Homo sapiens: one gene and its partner. The protein of the gene in region 1 interacts with the protein of each later gene in a biochemical or structural test. Each region holds a gene or a part of one and is shown in the gene's direction. Other genes may lie near its edges.

Region 1 (3,500 bases):
CTGTTTCATAGAAGATGAAGCTGAGGCTTGGAGAGGTTAAGTCACTTGCCATGTGGTCACGCACAGCTGGGAAGGGTTGTTGCCAGGGTCTGAATGGGGTCTGCCCAACTCCAGCACTCTTGCCCTTACCCACTCCTCCAGGCAGCCAGTGCAGAGCACATGGGCAACATGTTTACTGTGTGTGCCCAGCAGCACCCATTCAGGAGCTTTCATTCATGGCCCCAACAGGCTGGGGCCAGGAAAGGTCCCAAGCTATACCCCAGCTGTGGTTGGTGCACATCAGTGGCCCTAAGCTATTATTGGGCCTTTTGCTTAGCTCTCCCTCCCCTACCCTGCCCCCACAAAGCTACCTTCCTCTCTGGCATAGATCTCAAGCCTAGGAGTACAAGGCTCCCAGGGCTACAGCCCACACAGCGCCACACCCTACAGCAGACCCAGGAGATGCCTGACTCCCTCCCCAGCCCTCCCACCAAAGGCCCACACATGGGCGTCACCTTGGTTCTACTCATCTTGTAAAGTTCTAATGAATAGAAATTAGCAACTGCTGAGTGACAGCCTCCCCCTGGCTCTCCTGCCTCCCCCAGCTCTTCTCCCTGTGGGGAGGGAGATCTAGCAGTTAGGCCCTTTATGCCCACACCCCCACCATGGAAGAAGGGCAGAGCCTGACTCATTGGAATCCCATTGTTGCCAGTTTCTCTGGTGCGTGGTGACATTTTAGATCACCCTGCTTATGTGAAGCTGTTTTTGGCATGCTGCCCTCCCAGGGCAAGCTTGCTGCTTCCCAGGAGGTATGTCCCCCGAGTGCAGCCCCTGGGGCACAGACATTTGTCTCCCAGATGCATGAACTAACACACCTGTCGCATGCTTGTGCTGTGGAGCGGCTGGACACCTAGGCTGACTTTGAATGGATTATACCAAACGGACTGATGTAAGACCTTTTAAGGAATGGAGCAAGTGGAATGGCTCAGCCCTGCTCTGTCACTTCCCCCATGCAGCAGATGGTTACTGGGTGCTCTGGGAGGAACAGGAAGCATCTCTGTTGTACCAAGGAACCAGTGTTGGCTCCATAGTAAGACAAGAGTCAGCCGAGCATGGTTATTCACACCTGTAATCCCAGCACTTTGGGAGGCTGAGGCAGACAGATCACCTGAGGTTAGGAGTTGAGACCAGCCTGGCCAAGATGGTGAAACCCCGTCTCTACTAAAAATACAAAAATTAGCTGGGCGTGGTGGCGCATGCCTATAGTCCCAGCTACTTGGGAGGCAGAGGCAGGAGAATCGCTTGAACCCGGGAGGCTCGGAGGTTGCAATGAACCGAGATCGCACCACTGCACTCCAGCCTGGGCTACAGAGCGAGACTCCATCTCAAAAAATATATATATATATGAGTCAATATTTGATCAGGCATCTCAGCCTTCCTCTTAGCAGCCCTGCTAAGTGCCCCACACCCCTAGGGCAGGAAGTCAGCTGATGGACCTGGGAGAGGGGTTTGGAAAGCAAAGAGGGCCAGGCCTTGTTGCACACTGCGCCTCTACCCCCAGATGGACATGGGCCTAAAGCTGGGCCATCCCACACTGACTGGCAACTGGCAGATTTCAGACCCCAATGCCCTCAGCCCACCATCACCCTTGACCCCACAACCAGCAATAACAAAAAGACCAAAAGCCTGTTTCTTCCACCAGCCACCAGCGCAGTTCCTCTTTTCCACCAGGAAAGCTGGAGTAGTCCTGACGCCATATATACCACCCGCTCCAAGGAGGATTGGATTCACTGTTGGTAGAGTGGCCATCAAGCCAGAACCTAGCCAACCAACACGGAGCCAGAGGGAGAAGGCCAGGGGAGGGAGGACCTCAGTGGTGCTCAGCATCAACTGGCTTTGGGGTGGGGGCATGGGATGGAGCAGTCACTTAGCTTCCCATCTGGTGATGAGGACCAGCAAGAATTTGCAACAGGAACGCAGCTTCCATAGCAAAGTCAAGGGGAGGGGAGCTGCCGCCCTGGGCTTGCCTGGCAGGAATTAGCTTATGTACCAAATTGTTTGTGACAGTGCTGAGCAGGAGACGCTGGCTTGTGAGGAGGAAGGCTTTTTTAAACAATTTGGTTAAAATGTTCAAATTGCCAGCTCTGACTCTTGCCCTGGAGAGGAGGGCAGCGGCCTGCTGTTGACTCCCTGATGGCTGGAGCAGTGGAAGCCACTAAGAATGGCTAAAGATCACCCAAGCTACGGGCAAGGGCAATCTCGTGGGTCCGCAGCCCAAGGCAGAGAGAGACATGGAGTTTACCACCTCCCCGGCAGCTCCTGCCACTGCCCAGCGTCTTGATGAAACAGTATGGAAACACGGCTGTCATTTATCCAGGTGTCTGCCTAGCAGGTACAGGAATGTGGGCTTGGGGACTGGAGCCCCCACCTTAAAAAGAGGTGAGGCAATGGAAAGGACCAGAGGGGCCCTGATTCAGCAATTTACAGTGCCTTGGAGCTCGCCAGCAGCACCTCATTTGCATCTGGATTCCAGCCCTGGCATCTGCCTCGCCCCGCTCTGCTCACAAAGTAACCCCACTGTCTTTCCACAAAGCCAGGCACTCCTTAGCCTAACGGCAGATCCTAGCCCTGAGTGCCCAGAAATTCTATGTAAAGAATGAGAACCAAACCAGGCTCCCACTAATTTAGAATTCAAACAACCCCAAAGCTAAAATAACCCCAATTTTTTTCTATATTGCATAGTCATCAGTGAGCTTTATAATTTTGTCCTAGAAACCCCCCCAGAGTCCCTAAGTGCCTTTGGCCTATCAAAGTAAGACTCATTTATGTTCAGTCTAGTTTGTGTTAAATGTGTTTTGTGCTATCCTGATTCCTTTAAAAATGGTAATTCATTCATGAGAAATACGATAACTATTAACCAGACTGCCCCATTCCTGAACCATTTTGCATAATTGAACATGTATTCTATCAGCCTCTTCCTTTCCCCCAGGGATAGAGACCGACCTTTCTTTACATAACCCCTGGGCACTTGCCCAAGCCAGCAGGAGAATTCAGGTTTGGTCCTTTTTTTTTTTTTTTTTTTTTAATCTCAGGTCAACCAATCGAGTGGCGGGGTGAAGTCGTCCAAAGTCTTTGAGGTCTAAGAGTCCCAGATTCAAGTTTACATACTGGCTGTGTGGCCTTGGGGAAGATCCTTTCATCTCTTTGGACTGGCTTCCTCGTAATATTTCATAGGGTTATTGTGAAGAGTAAGATAGCCTATCTCACATGCCTAGGCCGTGTCTTACACATAGGAGTACTCAGTGACCAAATCTTGCCCTCTGCATCTCTCACTGCCACCTTGGGAAAAGCTAAGAAGGTGGTTCTTGCCGCAGAACGCTGACTCCTCCTATTTTGGTTTGGGGATAGAACTTTAAAAGGGCTAGTAAACAAAGGTCCCTTTTCAGCTTAAGTCAGAATTATAGGCAGCAGGGAACATGGAACTCCTGCTTGCCCAAGTTGGAACTCTAGGATCTGGAGGC
Region 2 (3,500 bases), on another chromosome or scaffold:
AGTAAGTGCGCAAGACTGCCCATCAAAGAGCCAGGGCCCAGAGTTCACAGTGGCCCTAGTCACAACAGGCACGAGGTGCAAACAGCCCAGTGTCCATCGATGGAGGAATGGATAAACAGCACGTGGTCTGTCCATACAATGGAATATGATTCAGCCTTTAAAAGGAAGGAGATTCTGACCCCTGCTACAACACTGGGGAACCTTGAGCATATTATCCTAAGTGAAATAAGCCAGACATAGAAAGACACATACTGTAGGATTCAACTTCTGTGAAGTGCCTAGAGTCGTCCAATTCATAGAGACAGAAAGTAGAACGGTGGTTGCCAAGGGCTTGGGGAAGGAGGAGAAAGGACATCTATGGACATTTTGCCATATGGCATAATGGGTGCAGGGTTTATGTTTGCGGGATATTTTAAAGTTCTGGAAATAGGTAGTGCTGATGGCTCTACAACATTGCGAGTATTCTCAATGCCGCTGAACTGTACATTTAAATGTGGTTACAGTGGTAAGCCTCATGTTAGTATATTTTGCCACAGTTGAAAAAAAAAAAAAAAAACAGTCAGCATGTGTGGCCTCTAATGGCAAGTACCATAGCAGCAAATGGAGGAGATCACTGGGCAGAGGAGATCACTGGGCAGAAGTGATCAAGGAAGGCAGCCCTGCAGGACAGGCCCACAGCTGAGCCTGAGAGGGGATGGGGATCTTTGGGGAAGGAGGGGAGGAATTGCTAGGGGCCACAGCAGGGCTGTGCGCAGAGGGAGAAAGCATCAGGAGACAGGGCCACCCTGTGTCTGGGTTGGGGCTGGGTCCTCATGCTCACCACCTGGATGGGCTCACCAAGGCCACTGCATCTCCCACAGACCGGGGAAGAACACACAGTGACACATCTCCAGTACGTCGCATGGCCTGACCACGGTGTGCCCGATGACTCCTCCGACTTTCTGGAATTTGTAAACTATGTGAGGTCTCTGAGAGTGGACAGCGAGCCCGTCCTAGTTCACTGCAGGTATGGCGCTTGCTGTTTTGTTAGGTTTGGAATCCTTTCCCTGTCGGAAAAGGCCTGGAGACAATTGGCAGGCGCCAGACCCACCCTACATCCCACAAAGTCGTGTGCCCTTACAAACCTCTGTTGACTGTGGTTCTTCACCATTTCAAAAGTTTTTTGGAATTTTATGAAATCCTAACTTTGTGAATGTAGCACAGAACTGAAGAAGAAAATCCCCTCACACACCCTTTCTCCTGTCCTTCTGTCAGCTGACCTTCGTCATAGGTGTGAGTGAGAAAGGGAATAGGTTTGGCACTTCACAGTGGCCCTCTTTCCACTGCCTGCTAGCCCCCAGTCTCAGATGTGTGAGGACAGGCTGTCTCAGCCTGTTTGAGAGCACGCCGTGAGTGTGCGTTTTGTCTTCTCGAAGGCCAAGGGAGGAAAGCCCCTTTGGAGTCAGCGGGGAACTGCTCGCTGGGCCATGCAGAAAGGCTACTCAGACAAATCCCAAGTCTGTCTTCTCTCCCCTCTCCAGTGCTGGAATAGGTCGAACCGGTGTGTTGGTCACTATGGAAACAGCCATGTGCCTAACTGAGAGGAACCTGCCCATTTACCCACTGGATATTGTCCGAAAAATGCGAGACCAGCGCGCCATGATGGTGCAGACATCAGTGAGTAGAAATCCAGTAATTACGGTGGCTGGCACTTTCTGAGCACTTACACCAGGCAGGCCTGAGAGAAGGGCTTTGTGAGTCAACAGACTGCAGCTCAGGGGGACTGAATCACTTGCCCAAGGTCACAGAGCTTGTCAGTGGCTACAGCCCACACCCATCTCACCTCTGAGCTCTGCTGCCTCTGTGGTTTATTTCCTGCCAGCCCGTCTGTCAGGGAGCAGCCCTGGTTGCATTCTGTATCGTTGAACAATCATTTGTCCATTATCCTCCCCCGCACCGACCCACCTAGACCTGGGTACTCCTTTTGGCTCAGTGGATGTTGCATATGACCCTACTTTGAGCTCTGTTCCACCCGTGTGGTGCCTGAGTACCTGCTGTGTCCTCCACGGGCAGGCCAGAGCTCAAAGTAGGGTCATGTGCAACATCCTCTTGTCCTCAAGAGGAACTCTAGGGGATAACTCTTGGGGATTTCCCCTGGAACTGCAAGCGGGGCAGTGAAGCGGTGTGGAAAGAGCATGATTAAGGTCCCACCACAAATGGAACAACCTTTGCATAAGTCCTGAACCTCTCTCCAAGCTTCAGCTTCCCTGTGCAAAATGGGGACCATCCCACATTCATTCATTCATTCATTTGACAAAGAAGGGTGCAGAGACAGGCTTGTATCTAGTAGGAGAACTGGATTAGTCTATGCTAAGTGTCAGCAGCGGTGAGGGAAGTTCAGGGCTGTCTGAGAACATGGTGGAAGAGTATCTAAAGCAGGATTTGGAAAGTCTAGGAAGGCTTCCTGGAGAAGTGTCTTCTCTGGTAAAAACCCCCAGGGTACATGAGGAGTTAGCAAAGAAAGGAGCAGGAACTATATGTTCCAACCAGCTCTGTCTCTTCACAGGCTGTGGACAAAGTTTATAAGATTTCCCTAATAAATTTTTAAGCTTTGGTAGTTTTATATTAGTTTGTACCCAGAAAATCTTGTTAAGAGAAAAAAAATCAGCTTATGTTATTAGGGCCATTCTCTGCCCTGTTTTTTGGTATGGAAGACCTCGTGGCTGGTTAAAAAGAAAAAAGTCCATCATCCTGGTAGATTTTCCCAGCTGGAAGCTGGGCACGGTGGCTCACGCCTATAATCCCAGCACTTCAGCAGGCTAAGGAAGGTGGATCACTTGAGATCAGTAGTTCAAGACCAGCCTGGCTAACATAGTGAAACCCCGTCTCTAATGAAAATACAAAAATTAGCCAGGCATGGTGGCATGTGCCTATAGTCCCAGCTACTTGGGAGGCTGAGGCAGGAGAATCGCTTGAACCCAGGAGGTGGAGGTTGCAGTGAGCCAAGATTACGCCACTGCACTCCAGCCTGAGTGACAGAACAGGACTCTGTCTTGAAAACTAGATAGATAGATAGATAGATAGATAGATAGATAGATAGATAGATAGATAGATTTTCCTAGCTGGAGAAGCTCAGTCTAAATGCTTTTATCCCCCCTGTATACTTTGCTACAATATGTTTCTTAGGTATTTGCTAAGATAAATAACTGTATCCTGCAGAGCATCTTTCAGTGGCTCTGCTTTGTAAAACACAATCCAGACTCCTTACCCCAACACAAGGTGCCCACAACCAGGTCCCAGCCCACCTGTGCAGCCCCTCCTCCTCCACATGCCTAGGTGTTGAGTCCAGGAGCAGGCTCCCTGACCCCGTTTCTCAAAATGGGCTCTTACTGAGGCTTCCACACTTCCACTTACAAGAAGGGCTGTCCCGCAGGGACTTTTGCTCCTTCCCACCTCCCCCAGACCGCCAGTTTCTCCCTCTGTCATGTCTCCATGACACTTTGCCCACCCCTCTCTGGGAG

What was found. The genes of interacting proteins can lie anywhere in the genome.
Region 2: the proteins of MYO18A (region 1) and PTPN3 interact in a test that uses a peptide from one of them, tested with the Homo sapiens proteins (one large-scale study listed by IntAct).

The regions. Positions count from the first base shown.
Region 1 is NC_000017.11:29,075,899-29,079,398, reverse strand, and holds part of MYO18A (unconventional myosin-XVIIIa), read left to right. Parts: intron 1-3,500.
Region 2 is NC_000009.12:109,379,808-109,383,307, reverse strand, and holds part of PTPN3 (tyrosine-protein phosphatase non-receptor type 3), read left to right. Parts: intron 1-860; coding exon 861-1,006; intron 1,007-1,520; coding exon 1,521-1,656; intron 1,657-3,500.